Regions from separate parts of the Homo sapiens genome. Here region 2 is linked to region 1. The links come from fine-mapping of genetic effects on gene expression. A gene starts in region 1. The other region holds a variant in brackets. All regions are shown on one strand. Distances are between the middles of the regions. Region 1 holds the start of SULT1C2 (sulfotransferase family 1C member 2). Region 2 has its middle 27 kb from the start of SULT1C2.

What was found. PIP is the estimated chance that this variant, and not a neighbour inherited with it, causes the effect.
Region 2: its variant is fine-mapped to the expression of SULT1C2 in transverse colon (GTEx, PIP 0.99).

Annotation. Positions count from the first base shown.
Region 1 is chr2:108,285,114-108,293,452 of GRCh38, forward strand. It overlaps SULT1C2 (sulfotransferase family 1C member 2), which reads left to right and starts at 3,782. Exons shown (of 8, transcript NM_001056.4): 1 at 3,782-3,957.
Region 2 is chr2:108,311,639-108,319,977 of GRCh38, forward strand. It overlaps the pseudogene SULT1C2P2. Among named protein-coding and RNA genes, the nearest start is that of SULT1C2, 27 kb to the left of the region's middle. The variant T/A (reference allele first, on the strand shown) is at 4,493.

The DNA.
Region 1 (8,339 bases):
GAGAAGAAGCCCATACTGCACCTTGATCTTGGACTTTTACTTATCAGAGCTGTGAAACAAGAAGTTTCTGTAGCTTAAGCCACCCAATTTGTACAGAAACCCTGGGAAACTAATGCAATGTGATTCTTCATTATTTCTAACTTTGTGTCAATCATGTCTCAGGATTTCTCTCTTCCTTAATACAAATGTGCCACATCCCCATGCCAACAGCCATCAGCCATGGCTGGAGTGGAGCCAGGGTCAGCAAATGGAAGGATGAGTAGGAGAATATGAAAGAAAGGAGATAGTAGAAAGTGAGGGAGAAAAAGACTTGTTCCATCTTTCCCTGGGTGACTGGACAAGAATTAGACAAGAAAAGAGAAAGGGAGAATTAAAGCCAATGAGCATTGCAAAGTAAGAAAAATGGCTTGAGAGACATGTAATTATGTGAATTGCGGATGGTCAAAAACAGAAGGAAAAAAATTTAAACGACAAGGGAGCACAAGCCAGGAGAATGCTGAGCCAGTTTCCTGGATAATAAGCGAGATCCATGAAGTTACAAAGGAGTCAGAGTTTGCCCACCTAGTACCTCACCACCTGCAGGAAAGAGCTCATCTGCTCTCTTGTGGACTTGGTCAAAGGATCTGTGTGACTGAGGCAAGTGTTACAAAGCTTGCCTGAAGCAGTTGCAGCTGTAGGACATAGCACCCAGAAGGAATGGCTATGTCCCGGGGGGAGACCTTTGCTCCCGCTGCTCCTCAAAGCCAGCCTGCTGGAACACAGGCACCTTCCACTTTGTGCCAGTGGCACAAAGCAGCTTGGCTACTTTTCCCAATTGAAAACCATGATCAGATCCCTCACAAAACTCTTCCAGGAGGCAATAGTGACTTTGGTCTTTCTAGCGGGACAGAGGCTGCCGTGTAGACATTCCCCTAACTCCAAAGAAGGCACACTTTACCTGGTTCTCAGAAACAGCTCAGAAAGTTCCAGAGGTACATGAATCACAAATCAGGGAAAAATCCATGTGGATGGATTATGTATAAACCAGGGCAGGGACTAGGGTGAGGTAAGGGCATAGCATTGAAGGAGGCATTCATTCTCTTGCACGGCCCTGGAGCGAGTGTCTCCTTACATTTTGCACCTTAGTTCCCTCATTCAAGTCCCAGTCCCGGTGAAAACTAAAGTTTTTGTTTCATTCATTTGTTTATTCATTCAGTAAGTATATTAATCCAGTTGAATGGGTACATGGTACAGGTGGTCTTAGAGATAGGCCCCAATCGACACACTGGGAGGGTAGTTAATTTCCTCATTCAAGTAAAAACAGAAAATTGCTGTAAGAGAAGGCCAAATTAATCCTATGGACCACACATTGTATGATTCAATTTATATAAAATGTCCACAATAGACAAGTCTATAGAGACACAAAGTAGATTTTGGTTTCTTAAAGCTGGAGATGGTGGTAGGAGGAATTAGGCATGACTATTAATAAATATGGGGTTTCATTTTGGGGTGATGAAAATATTCCAAAATTGAGTGTGATGATGGTTGCACAACTAAAAACATTGAACTGTACACTTGGGTGAAGTGCACAGTATGTGAATTTGATCTCAATAAAACTTATTTTTAAAAAAGCATATGGTAGTTCACAGAGAGATTGCTTCCAGCTATAACCTAAGGAAAGGCTTCAAGGAAAAGATGGGTTCAAAGCTGAAGAATCTGACTCTATGGAAACAGAGTAAGAACATTTTTTTAGAGATGGGATCTCACTATGTTGCCCAGGCTGGACTCAAGTAACTGGGATTACAGGTGCACAGCAGTGTGCCAGGCTAAGAGTAAGAGCATTTTTGGCAGGGAGAAACAGGAGTAAACCAGGGAGGCAGGAAATTATAGGATGCATACAGGGGACAGTAAGTCATTCAGTTCACCTGGTGTGTGGGGCCCATGGTGGGGATGGTGTTATATTAAAGAAGGCCTTGAGCCAGGCATTCAGGAGGCTTGAAGTAGGAGGATCACTTGAGCTCAGGAGGTCAAGGCTGCAGTGAGCTATGATCATGCCTCTTCACTCCAGCCTGGGCAAAAGAGTGAGACCCTGTCTTATAAAAAATAAGAATTAATGAATTTAGAAGGTCTTGAATTCCAAGTGGAAGCACCCAGAATTTGAGCCATAAACAACCAAAGGATAGCCTGATCTGAGCTGAGCTTAATTTATATGCTGAAAGTATGAGAGACTAGTAGGGAAGAGACCAGAAATAAGGAGACTGCTAGAAGATTGTGCAACATCCCAGTTCATCCTCCACAAATGTGGAGGAAGCAGATACTAGCAGTGGTTACTAACTGTAAATTCTGGGATTGTAGAGACTGTGACCCATGCAGACAGCAAAGGCAGGGAGATGCAGCATGCAGCGCAGCATGGCACCGATACTGGCAGACACTTTAGTAGACTTAGGGACTTTAACTGCAGAGAAAATGTGAGGTTGCACTAAGAACTGTGAATCAGCCCTATGGGGCTGAAAATTGACAGCACTGGGATAAGTGGAACTGGAAAGAGAGCAGAAGTAGAAAAATAAAGTTCAGCCGGGCGCAGTGGCTTATGCCTGTAATCCCAGCACTTTGGGAGGTCAAGGCGGGCAGATCACCTGGGAGCAGGAGTTGGAGACTAGCCTGGCCAACATGGTGAGACCCCGTCTCTACTAAAAATACCAAAAAAAAATTAGCTGGGCATGGTGGCGCACGCCTGTAGTCCCAGCTACTCAGGAGGCTGAGACAGGAGAATCGCTTGAACCCGGGAGGCGGAGGTTGCAGTGAGCCAAGATTGCACCATTGCACTCCAGCCTGGGCAACAGGAGTGAAACACCATCTCAAAAAAAAAAAAAAAAAGAAAAAAGAAAGAAAAAGAAAGTTCAATTTATTGGGAAAAAAAGAGCCCTTTGGAAACAAGGAGGAAGAAGAAGTGTCGGCAAAGAAGCATTAGGAGGTTCAGGGTCAAAGAAGACAAGGAAAGCTTTGGCAAGAAGGGCAGATGGGGTGCAGAATTATGCTTCAATTCCAGAAAGGAAAGCACTGGGGTAGATACAAGGTTGGGGCTGGCAGAAGAGTAGCAGTTCAGAGATCATTAACACTTGATCCATTTAATTTCCCAGGTAACCAAAGACACCATGGAATATAATCTGCCTCCACTAAAGTGTACCTTTTGTACAATAAGGCAAAGAAAAAATAAGTACACACCTAAGCTCTAGACTTTTGTTCTATCCTCTCTGCATTTTCGGTGTGGATGAATACAACTTGGGAAGAAAGGAAAGAAGAACCAGCAGTTTTAAGCACTTACTATTTGCTCTGCAAAGTGTATTCATCAACATTGTTGCTTTCAATCTTAAAGCATGGATTGGAGACAGGCAGTATTACCCACACTTCATAGATGCAGAAATTAAATCTCAGGCTAAGGAGGAAGGAAAAGGGAGTTCACCAAATAAGCAGGAGCCTACCTGAAGCCTGATGCATCTGGTCCTAGAGCCAACCTTCCATTTCCCCCCAGCCCCCACCTGTTTAAGCTTCGAGGCCAGTGGGAGGAGGGAGGGGCCAGGCAGCTGAGGGCCAGGAAAGATGTGAAAAACTCTAGCTGGTGACCGAGAGGAGGAGTAGAGTGTGCCCTTAGTTCATATGAACTAGAGGGAGTTGGTATTTGCACAGCAGTCAGGGTCACATGAGTGATCATGGTACAGTGAGAAGTTCTCCCTCCCAGGGCCAGGTCACAGGGTTTGTTTCTGTTCAATCCGGATTCTTCCAGTAAAAGCTTCAACTTCCCACACTGAAGCTGAGAGCCTCCCAAAGTGCTGGCTACCTGCTGAGCGCCCCCGTAACTCTGACACAGTAGTAATTTGAGCCTCTGCAATTGCCGTCTGCTTCCTGTGAAAGTCCTTTCCGTGCCCACTGACCCTTGAGTGGGCCTTTGAGCTGCTGACTTTCAGCTGGAACTTGAAGGTAAGAATATGGCTTAAAAGAAATTCTGTACCTAACTCGTTAATTTATTTTTTAACCTTTAGCCACATAGGTGTGGCTTTACAGATGCATTTATTCAAACCAGAAAAGATCCTAAGAATCTGATAAAATAATATAAAAGAGTTTTGTTAACAGCCTCCAGCCTAAAAATTCAGACCTAGAAATTCAGGACCCCCCTCAAATCACCTCCAAAAGCTCTCTCTCCTGTAATACTATCTCTGTCTCCCACCCTGATCTTTTCCCAAATACCCTCCCTGTCCCATCCTCCTCCAGGGCCAGCTCAACTTCTCTGGCCAAGACTATTTCTTCTTCCATGACAGCCCTCCTCTTATGCCAGCCATTGACTAAGACACATGCTGGGCCTGCAAGGGGACTGAACCAGATCCTGTGCTCCAAGGGTCCAGACTTATAAGCAAGTAATTGTAGGACGTGGAGTAAGACCTATAAAATTTGCACACAAAATACTATAGGATCCCATGGAAAGGAGTGATTACTTCTGTTTACAGAGTCAGGGATGCCTCCACAAAGGAGGCCATAGTGATCTGGCCTGATATGATGAAAATGTCCCTGCTGGCTGCTCAAGGGGAAATGTATGTGTCTACATGCCTGACTCTCCAAGGGCAGGAACCATGTGCTGATGTGGCCCAGCAATGAGGGGCCTGGGGAGGGTGAGAAGGACTTGGGACTTCTCCTGTGGGAACTGGCAGATCCCTCTGCTCCCACTGCACTACCCAGCTGCCTCAATCTCTTGCTGCATCTCCTTCTCCCAGCTTTAGCCAGGTTCTATCACTCCCCGTGCAGGCCTCCAACAAGAGCAATACAGTGGGATCCATAGTTCACTGGACAGCCAAGCCCTTAACCGCCCTGGTCCTCAGCAGCAGCAGGTGCCCTTCCACACATGTTCACAGCTGTGCCCAGGCCCTCGGTCATCAGCTACCTGCCCAGAGCACAACGCCTACCACAGAGTTGGTCAATGTGTTGCGTGGATTATTCTCAGGGCATTAGTTCAAGGCCAGAGCCCTAAGCTCACATGTACACCTGCCTACAGGTGTACATTGGGAAGTCCCATAAATACATCAGACTCAACCCCAGAATTGGACTCACCATCCCCTCACCCCCACCCTATGGAGGACCTTCTCACTGTGTCCTTACATGGTCTTTCCTCCATGTGCACACATCCCTGGTGTTGCCTTGTGTGTCCTAATCTCCTCTCATTACAAGGATACCAGATTGGAATAGGTCTCATCCTAGCAGCCTCATTTTAACTTAATCACCTATTTAAAGACATTATCTCCAAATACAGCCACATGCTAATATACTATGAATTAGGACTTCAACATATGAACTTAGAGAGACACAATTCAAACCACGATAATGTCCGTCTTAGTCCATTTTATGTTGCTATAACAAAATACCTGAGGCTGGGTAATTTATAAATATAAGAGGTTTATTTTGAATCATGATTCTGGTGGCTGAAAAGTCCAAGAGCATGGTGCTGGCATCTGCTCAGCTTCTCGTGAGGGCCATGCTGCATCAAGACATGGTGAAGAAATAGAAAGGCAAGCAGGCATGTATAAAGGGACCAAACTCACCCACTTCTGGGAGATGGCATTAATCTACTCATGTGGAATCCACCCTTATGGCCCAAACACCTCTCACAAGACCCCGTGTCCTAGCACTGCCACACTGGCAGTTAAACTTCAACAGAGAGTTTTGGTGGGGACTAACCACATCCAAACCACAGCAGTATCCAAAAAGTGTTTTGTAGTTTTATGTTTATATATATGTATACTTTTTGTTCATAACTATGTATAAACAGTTTTCTATCACTATCACTGCCATAACAAATTATCAAAAATTTAGCAGCTTAAGACAATACAAGTTTATTATCTCACACCTCTGTAAGTCAGAAGTCCAAACAGGTGTCTCTGGGTAAAATCAAGGTGTTGGCAGGGCTGCGTTCCCTTCTGGAGGGTCTGAAGAAGAATCCCTTCCAAGCTCATTCTGGTTGTTGGCAGAATTCAGATTCATGTGGCTGTAGGATGGAGGTCCCATTTGCTTGTTGGCTGAGGTTCATTCTCAGCTTCTGGAGGTCATGCCTTGTCTTGTGTTCCCCTTTGTCTCTAAGCCATCAATGGCAAGTTGAGTCATTCTCATGCTTCCAAACTCTCCAGCCACTTCTTCTGCCACACGACTCTCTGACTGCTCTTCTACACCCTTGTCCACTTTTAAGTGCCCTTGTGGTCACATTAGACCCACCGGGATAATACAGGACATGCTCATTGCCTTAAGGTTCTTAACCTAAATTCCATCTGCAAAGCCCTTTGCCACACAATGTAATGTATTAGGAATTAGGACGTGGACATCTTTAGGGCCATTATTCTGCCTACAACAATATACATTTGAAAAAGACAGATAGAAATACATCAAAATAATAACAACTCTTGTGTGATAGATGTTTTCCTTGTACATTTGGACTGTTTCCAAAGTTTCTGCAATGTATAACTTTAAATTCACAATAAAAAAAAACAAGAGGCAATTTTTAAAGAAGGAACATAGGATTCGTATACAGATGTTGGCTGCGATCCTGGGCAAGTTATTGATCGTGTGACTCTCAGCTTCCTCACATTTATGAGGGTGATAATTATTCCTTCCTAATAAAATTGTCATATGAATTAAGAAAGAAAAAGAAAAGTCCACGAAGGACCTAACATAGAAGGCCTGCAAGAAATGTTTGTTCTTATCCCTCCTCTCCTGAATTTGATCATACCATTATCTCAGGAGTACTGTCCAAACTCCACCTTCTTTGATGTATTATAAATACAACTGCTTCTCATATTTGAAAATTTTCATAAATAATTTGTCTTTCGTTTTCCAAAAATTGTCTTCATCTTAAAGGGCTCAGCTCAATCTGGAAGCAGAAGCCACCATGAAAACTGCCCTCACTAATCTGGGCACCTAGTTTTCTCATCCATTCCATGAAGCAGCTGGGCCAGATTATTTTATTCAACCTCTAGCAAGCATGTACTGTTACATTTTCTGTAAGGACCCTTTCAGCTCCGAAGTTCTATCACTCATTTTCAGCAAAAGTTAAAATAAATTAATGTATACAAGGCCTCAGCCCAGCGTTGGCAAATTGACGTGTTCGATAAATGTTAGCTTTTAACTACTATTTCATTAGTAGTAGTAGTAATAAATGTCTTCTGGAACCCCAGTAGCCAGTTATCCTTGAGTAACAGTGATTTACATCTTCTGCTTTCTCCTTTTGGTGCATTTAAAAGTCTTCCCTCAATACAACAATGACAACACACACACACACACACACACACACACACACACACACACACACACACAATGCAAAACTGGGCAAAGCAGATATTTCTCCCACAAATGGCCAATAAGCATGAGAAGATGCTCAACATCATTAGACATTAGGGGAATGCAAATCAAAACCCCAATGAGCTATTTATCACCGCACAACCATTAGGATGGCTATTATCAAAACCAAAAAAACAAACAAAAAACACAAGAAACAACAAGTGTTGATGACAATTTGGAAAAACTGGAACCCTTGTGCACTGCTTGTAAAAATGTAAAATGGTGCAGCTGCTGTGGAAGATGCTGTAACATTTCCTCAAAATATTAAACATAGAATTACCAGATGATCTAGCAATTTCACTTCTGAGTATATACCAAAAAAAATTGAAAGCAATAATTCAAAGAGATATTTGTACATCGATGTTCACAGAGACCTAATTCATGACAGCCAAAAGTTTCCATCAATAGATGACTGGGTAAACAAAATATAGGCTGGGCACGGTGGCTCACGCCTGTAATCCCAACACTTTGGGAAGCCAAGGTGGGTGGATCACCTGAGGTCAGGAGCTCAAGACCAGCCTGGCCAACATGGCGAAACTCGGTCCCTACTAAAGTCACAAAAATTAGTCAGGCATGGTGGCGGGCACCTGTAATCCCAGCCACTCAGGAGGCTGAGGCATGAGAATCGCTTGAACCCTGGAGGCAGAGGTTGCAGTGAGCAGAGATCATGCCATTGCACTCCAGCCTGGATAAACAGAGTGAGACTCTGTCTCAAAAAAAAAAAAAAAAAAAAAAAAGGAAAGGTGTATATCTACAGTGAACTAGGGAAGGAAATCCCATCACATGCTACAACACGGATGAGCCTTGAAGAGATTAAGCTTTGGATCAAGCTTTCAATTAAGCATAAGATTAAGCTTAATTAATAAGACATTCACAAAAGGACAGATGTTATGTGATTCCACCTAAATAAGGTACATAGAGTCCATAGAGACAGAGAATAAAATGGTGGTTGCCAGGAGCTGAGGGAGGGGGAATGGGAATTATTG
Region 2 (8,339 bases), 27 kb after region 1:
GCCCAGAGGCCTAGGAGGAAAAGATGGTTCCATGGGCTGGGCCCAGGGCCTTCCCTGCTGTGTGCACCCTAGGGACTTGGTGTCCTGTATCTCAGCCACTCCGGCCATGGCTGAAAGAGGCCAACGTAGAGCTCAGGCCATGGCTTCAGAGGGTGCAAGCCCCAAGCCTTGGCAGCTTCCATGTGGCATTGAGCCTGCAGGTGCATGGAAGTCAATAACTGAGGTTTGGGAACCTCCACCTAGATTTCAGAGGATGTATGGAAATGCCTGGATGTCCAGGCAGAAGTTTGCTGCAGGGGAGGGCTCCTCATGGAGAACCACCTCTAGGCCAGTGCAGAAGAGAAATGTGGGGTTGAAGCCCCCACAAAGAGTCCCCACTGGGACACTGCCTAGTGGAACCATGAGAAGAGGGCCACCATCCTCCAGACCCTAGAATGGTAGGTCCACCGACAGCTTGCACAGTGCACCTGGAAAAACCACAGGAACTCAATGTCAGCCTGTGAAAGCAGCCTGGAGGGAGGCTGTACCCTGCAAAGCCAAAGGGGCAGAGCTGCCCAAGACCACGGGAACCCACCTCTTGCATCAGAGTGACCTGGATGTGAACATGTAGTCAAAGGAGACCATTTTGGAGCTTTAAGATTTGACTGCCCCACTGGATTTCAGACTTGCATGCAGCCTATAGCCCCTTTGTTTTAGCCAATTTCTCCAATTTGGAATGGCTATATTTACCCAATGCCTGTACCCCTACTGTAGCTAGGAAGTAACTAACTTGCTTTTGATTTTAAGGCTCATGGGTGAAAGGTACTTGCCTTGTCTCAGATGAGGCTTTGGACTATGGACTTTTGAGTTAATGCTGAAATGAGTTAAGACTTTGGGGAACTGTTGGGAAGGCATGATTGGTTTTGAAATGTGAGGACATGAGATATGGGAGGGGGCAGGGGAGGAATGATATGGTTTGGCTGTGTCCTCACATAAATCTCACCTTGAATTGTAGCTCCCATAATTCCCACGTGTTGGGGGGAGGGGACTGGTGGGAGATAATTGAATCATGGTGCAGTTCCCCCATACCATTCTCTTGGTAGTGAATATGCCTCATGAGATCTGATGATTTTATTAGGGGTTTCCCCTTTCAATTGGCTCTCATTTTCTCTTGTCTGCTGCCACGTAAGACATGCCTTTCACCTTCCACCATGCTTGTGAATCCTCCCGCCTCAGTTTCCCAAAGCACTGGGATTACAGGCATGAGCCACTGTGCCTGGTCTTTTTCATTTTAATTGCAGACACAGTTCTTTAGTACTTGCATGCTTGTGAGGCCTCCAAAGCCATGTGGAAATGTAAGTCCATTGAACTCTTTTCTTTATAATTTACCCAGTCTTGGGTATGTCTTTATCAGCAGCATGAAAATGGACTAATATAAAGATAGTTAAAAAAAAAAAAAAACATTCACTCCAGGGTCAGCTATGATCCCAAATGATAAAATGAGTTCTGACTTTTAATTGGTTGGTTGGTTGGTGGGTTGGTGGTTGGTTGGTTGATTGGTTGGTCCTGTTAAAGAAAAAATTATTCAATGACACTTATTAAAGCACAGTAGGGCAGATTTTAGTCAGGACCATCTCCATAGGTGTAGGGACCATGGCAATGGAGTCTGGCAGTGGAAGAGATTGTGTTCGACTCTTAATATAACGTGGGCAAGTGGGAATTTATAGCCATGCAGAAGGGTGGAGAAGGAGGGATAGAAAATCCCTAAGAGGAAACATCATCGGTAAGGAAAGGGATGGGTTCTGGCTACAGTGATCCAACAGGATTCTTGCTAAAGATAGGCCAGGGTGATTAGATATTACCTGGGTGGTGGTGGAGGATGAAGAACCTGATCAGATGTTGGGGGTAGGGAGTTCCTGCTATATTGACTTAATAGTTTTCTTGCAAAAACTGGATTTTTCAAAGAATTACACAGAGGGGTATAGGAGATATGTTAAGAACCTTACTAAAGTTTGGTCAAGAAAATAATCTTTGTCATTTGGTTTAAACTCTTTCTGCTTCCTTTTCTTCACTAGCTAGGACCTAAACATGCCGACTTTGAGGTTTAGTATTTCAAAGAGCTTTGAAGTTTAATGCTGTGAGATTACATGGGACTGTGAGTTTTTCAAACACCCACAAATCACATTTAAATTCAGGCTTCCAACAACCAGTAGAAACTACATGGCAACTGGAACACGTTAGAATCAGGGTCAAGAATGAAAAGCCACCATGATGGTAAAGCACAGTGTTTTGCAACTCGACCAGTTGTCCACAACTCAAGCAAGGAGGGACCAATCTAACAAGAACAGAGATGCAAGAAATAGAACTAGCCCCAGGAAATTCAGTATTCAAGCTAAGATGCAAAGAGCCCTAGCACACCCTCTCCCCACATATACCTGCACCATAAGTATGTACCAACAGCTAAAAAGAAATGATTTTATGTTTCTTTCCTCTTAAGAGTTACAGCCATTCTTCATTCAGTCATTCATTCATTCTCAATAGTACACGTACTATGTGCCAGGTACTGTGTGAATGATGGGGATACAGTGGTGAGCAAAGCCCTTCCCCTATGGATTTCATGGTCTAGCATGTGAAGCAAAAGTCCACTAAGTCGTGACACATGTCACCAACCGAGGAGAGTGCCATGTGAGATGGTTTCAGGCTTCGAGAGGCCAGAGCAGATCAGCTGAGACTGGGGCCTGAGGCACAGCTTTCCTGAGAGGACATGGTCCTTCCTAGGTGTGAAGCATGTGCTGGCTTTAACTAGGCAAGAGACTGGGCAGAGAGAAGGAGACCCAGGAGCAGGCTTGGTGAGGCGGGCCTGTCTCAGGGCAAGAAGGAAGGGCTATGAGGGGAAGAGCTACAAGCTCAGGGAGAACTGACAAAATGGGGCCCCAAAGAGAGCCGGGCATGTCACATGGGGCCTTGATGGTCATGGCAGAATGTTAGACTTTATCCTAGGAGCATCAGGAAGCCCCTGCAGGCTCCAAGATAGATGGTGAAACACTCAGACTACCATGTCAATATGTCTACTGTGTCTGTGCCATACACACAGCACAAGGGTGGGAGCCACACTGTTCCAGTTGAGAGGGCTGGGAATTGTTCATGGGTGTGGAGACTTCCAGGGTTAAGGGTTAAGGGAACCTCCTCCCTCAGCCTCTCACACCTGGTTACAAAAGCAGGAAGTAGAATTTCAGGTTGACCAGCAGGATACTCACTCCTTATTAAAAAAAAAAAAAAATTTAAGACAAAGTCTCACTCTGTTGCCCAGGCTGGAGTGTAGTGTCACAATCGTGGCTCACTGCAGCCTCAACCTCCTAGGTTCAAGCAATCCTCCCAGCTCAGCATCCTGAGTTGCTAGCACCACAGATGTGTACCATCATACCTGGCTAATTTTTATTTCTTACTCTTTGTAGAGACGGGGTCTCACTATGTTGCCCAGGCTGGTCTAAAACTCCTGGCCTCAAACAATCCTGCCACCTTGGTTTCCCAAAGCACTGGGATTACAGGCATGGGACACTGTGCCTGGTCTTTTTCATTTTAATTGCAGACACGGTTCTTTAGTGCCTAGTATACTCTTTAAGTACCACTGGAGATTCATGACAAGAGGAAGAGTAATAGGAAAAGATTAAGATGACCAAGCCTCAGATCAGCAAGCAAACTATCAGAGATTCACAGATCTCTCTGAAAAGAAAAATGTGGCCTGAGACATTTAACAGATTCTCTATCAGGAGTGTTTCTCATATGCAGCAATATATCTGACCCAAAGGACACAATTTAGTTAATGTCTTAATAATACAGAAGTAGACTCACCCAAGCAGGTTGCTGCAAGTCAGAGATCTCAGAGATTAGCCCAATGCTGGTCAGGTTGTCAAGTGTTTGTCAGAGTGACTGGTGTGGTATTCTCCACTCTGCCTGTGGCAGGCCAGGTCTCATTAACAGCTGAAGAGGCAGGCCTCCATAACAACTGTTTCAGCACTGACTGAGTGGTTAAATATTAAAAGCTGAAAGAACCAGTGCCCTTATACAAAGGCTGGAATGTAACAAAAGCCCACAAAGAGTTTTGCCTGGGCCTTTCCTGGGCCTTGACAGGAATGACAAATAATGAAGGAATTCTTAACAGGACCCATAAAGATTAAACAAGTTTTTATTGGGGGTCTAAAGAAACTCCCCAGACCTCCACAAACAAGTTTTATTGTGGGTCTAAAGGAACTCCATAAACCTCCATAATTTAGCAGGAGACAAGATAAGGGTAATTACCCTAGCACCTGGACCCATCTAGATTAAGTAAATTTACTGAGGCTCCAGAGGAAGGTCTTCTTCGAAACTCAGACCGTAACTATAGATTAGAAGACGTTAATCACTTATGTCTTTGGATGAATACACACTTAAATGTAAACATATAGCTTAGAAGGTATATAATCCCTGAAAAACTGTAATTTTGAGCTGATCTGGCAATATTTTCCAGGCCTTC[T/A]CCTTGTACCCAGTTACAGAATTAAACTCTCTTCTTTCCTAGTTCATCTGCATCTCGTTACTGGGCCGTGAGAATAAGCAGCCTGACCCTCGGTTTGGTCTGGGAACATGCCTAGTCAAGGGCATCAATAGGGTCACAGAATAGAGATTGGTCTGTGGCCATTCAGCCTTGCCCTTTCCTGCCTCTCTTCACCCAGCCACACCTTTCCCTCTCCTTCTTCCCACCTCTCCCACTCATCAAAGGACGAGCTGGCCAATCATTTCGAAACGGGGAATACTAAAAACACAGGGGAAGTGCAGATAACTTCTAGCATTTCCTGTCCCCTCAAGAGGATACTTAACATAGATTTTCAACAAAAGAATACCATGGCCTAACTATGTGAGGTATTAATGAAGGTCAATTTATAAAAAAGAAGGAGGAAAGCTGTGCTTGCTTTCTCAGCAGGGAAGCCTATGGACTGAGCCAGGTCTGAGTTCTGTGCGCAGGCTGCCTGGATCTAAACTAGGCGCTGTTAGCAGTGCGCTGCAGGAGTGAGACTGACCTCACCAACTGTGTAGGAGCTGGGTGAGGCCTCTCGCTACCGGCTATCCCCCACTCCCCCGACGAATTCTGCTGCACAGCAGAGAAAGCCATACTCCCCTCTGGATCATAATCCCATTAGCCTGAGAACCACCCCTGCATCCCCCACAGTGGCCGCGGCAAGCCCCGCCCAAAAGCTCAGACCCGCCTAACCCTGCCCCTAACCGATGGTATTTCTCTACTGGCCCTGGTAGCATAACACAAAAGACATAAACTCTTGGGAGCTTTATGGTCCCACCCATCAGCTGAGAACAAGAATACTTACCCTGGTCAACTTAGAGCAAGCTTATGTCCCACTACTACTACTGCAGCAGGAGCTCTCTTGCAAATTCCACCTCAGGGCTGGAAGCCATTCAACTCAGACCATTACAGCAACCCTTGGCAGAAAAACACTGCTGCCAGGAAGAAGAAAACAACAGCTAACACCACTGCCTGCAACACCCTGGTCCTGAGTCTGCCCACATGACAACTTCACTGCTAGCATAACCAACATTTGAGAAAGCCTGCACACTAAACGTATTCTACAGCCAAGGAATCTCAGAGTCTACATCACTTCCCTGCCACTTCCACCCCTGCAGGTGCTGGTATCCACTGCTGGGAGACCTCAATATGGGTCGCATCACGGGACTCTTTGTAGATATTCCCCAGCACCAGACAAGAGCCTGGTAGCCCCGCTGAGTGGCTAGACCCAGAAGAGCAGTAATAATCACTGAAGTCCAGCTCTCAGGGGAAGGGGGAGAACACCACATCAAGTGATCACCTCATGGGACAAAAGAATCTGCACAGCAGGCCTTGAGTTCCAGATCCTTCTGCTGGTGGGAAGTTTCTCACATCAGAGACACAGCTGCAGTGCTGGGCACAACAGGTAAAGTTTAGGTGAGCAAGATCAACAATATCACAAATACCGAGATGAAGAGAATTGAAATAACTTTTCCCAGATTTGTTTTCCTTGCTTTCCCTTGTTCTCTCCCCCAAATCCCCTAATGACTACTTGTTGCCCTTCCCCACTCAACAGAACCCAGAACATGAAGTTCAAAAGGATAATGGAATTTATGGGGAATAAACTAGATGAAGATCCTGTCAAAAGAATTGTTCAGCACACATCTTTTGAAAGTAAGAAGAAAAACCAGATGACCAACTATGTAATGATAACCTGTGACATCATGGACCACTCCATCTCCCCATTTATGAGGAAAGCTGCCTGCCAACCATCATGAATTTCCTTGAGAACCATATTATTACATAATTAGTATTTTGGGAAAGAATATTAATACGTTTTTTCCTTTTTATTCATTTTTTTAAAAGATAGAAACTCACTGTCACCCAGGATGGAGTGCAGTGGTGCAATCACAGCTCACTGCAACCTTCAATTCCTGTGTTAAAGCAATCCTCCCACCTCCAGCCTCCCAAGTAGCTGAGACCACAGGTACACACCACCATGCCCAGCTAAATTTTTTATTTTTTGTATAGACAGGGTCTCACTGTGTTGCCCAGGCTGGTCTTGAACTTCTGGGCTCAAGCAATTCTCCCACCTTGACCTCCAAAGTGCTTGGATTTCAGGCATGAGCCACCATGACGAGCCTTATTACCTTTTTAACTAACATGATGCTGCCAATAATTCTGAGGTTTTCTCAAAATATTAATACGTCTTTGAAAGAAAATAGACTGTGATGTGTACCTGTAATACGAATTCATACTTTTTAATTATCTCTAAAGTTTCACTTTATGGAAAAAGCATTCAGAATAGACTTCCCGTCCAATCTCTCAAGCACGATTGCATTGCTTTTCAGGGACCGTTGGAGAGTGGAAGGATTACTTCTCAGCAGCACAGAATAAGAGATTTGATGAAGACTAGGGAGGAAAATGGCTGACTCTTCTCTGACCTTCCACACGGAGCTCTAAAGAGAGAGAGACAAAGTCTATACTACACAGGGGCACTTTTATTACCTTGTCTTCCAGTTTTTATTCCCCTTGTCACTGCTTTTCCCTAGAAATGACTTCCTGAGCTTGCTCAAATTGTTCAGGCAAGAACTGTAAATTACCCTTTCCTCTCTGCATGCCCCCGGAAAATAAAATTGTTTTGTTAGCTAAGGAGCTGGGTTCAACATTCTTCACAAACTGACTGAATAGTTGTAACAGAAACTGTGGAACCTTGTCAAAAGTCTGGTGGTTCAGTCTCCAAACCAAAGTTTAGAGGTCCTGAGGCCACACTGAAAGTTTAGAGGTCCTGAGGTCAGCTGGCCACGTTCTTCCACCCGTCACCTGGGCCTGTCCTTCCCAGGAAGAGCATCTTCTCTGATGGGCGCTTGGCAGGAGAACCACCCGACAGCTTTGCTAAAGTTTTCTGAGAGCTAAACCAGTCTAAGACTTTGCCTACCCAGTCTTCCTTCCTTCCCTCTTTCCTGCCCTTCTCCACAAGGGTTACTACTACACCAGGCTCTGACAGCCCTGCTCATTTATCCCTCACAAGCGTTGTCCCTCAATAAATCTCTTACTCTTACTCTATCTCAGTGATAGGCCAAGCATCTGTCTATCACTGAAAAGGGAGCAATATTCTCCCTTTGTTAGAGTGACCATTATATTTATGATTTACTGTTAAATTCAGATGTGCAAATACTAGGTTGAGTCATGTGAAATTGGTATCAAAAAAGAAAGCAAACATTCAAGAATCACAGAGGCAGCAACTTCAGAAAGATGAGAATTACTGAAATAGGATCTTGGAGGAGGGGTGTGTGGAGAAAACCCTCGCCCCTGGGGAAGGAGCACAACTTGGCCAGGTCTCTGTCCCTGAGGACACTGTGAAGACGCTGACTCTGAAGTGATCTGCACACTGGACTCTGCTGCTGCTACAGGAAGTGAATTATCTCAGGGGTACCACTCGCTGGAGCAAGAAGGCAGCAAAGGGAGCGAGTCCCTACTCCTCCTCTTGTCTGTCAGTCTCCCTGTGAGCAGAGACTCAGAGAAGACACACCAGCTGGCCCAGTGGAAACACAGATGGCACAGTCCCAGCCCAGCATCTCAAAGAAAACCTGAGACACGTGAACTAGGACATGAGAGGCAATAACTTCATGAACAGGCCAGCCAATATCTGACCTTTTTAAGCTCAAAAATGGCCATTTCAAATAGTTCAACCTAATACGTGTGTTTGTGTGTAAATATAAATGTATATATGTAAATATAAAATATATTTTCATGTGAAAAAAAAAAAAAAAACCTAGGCCGGGCACAGTGGCTCATACCTGTAATCCCAGCATTTTGGGAGGCCGAG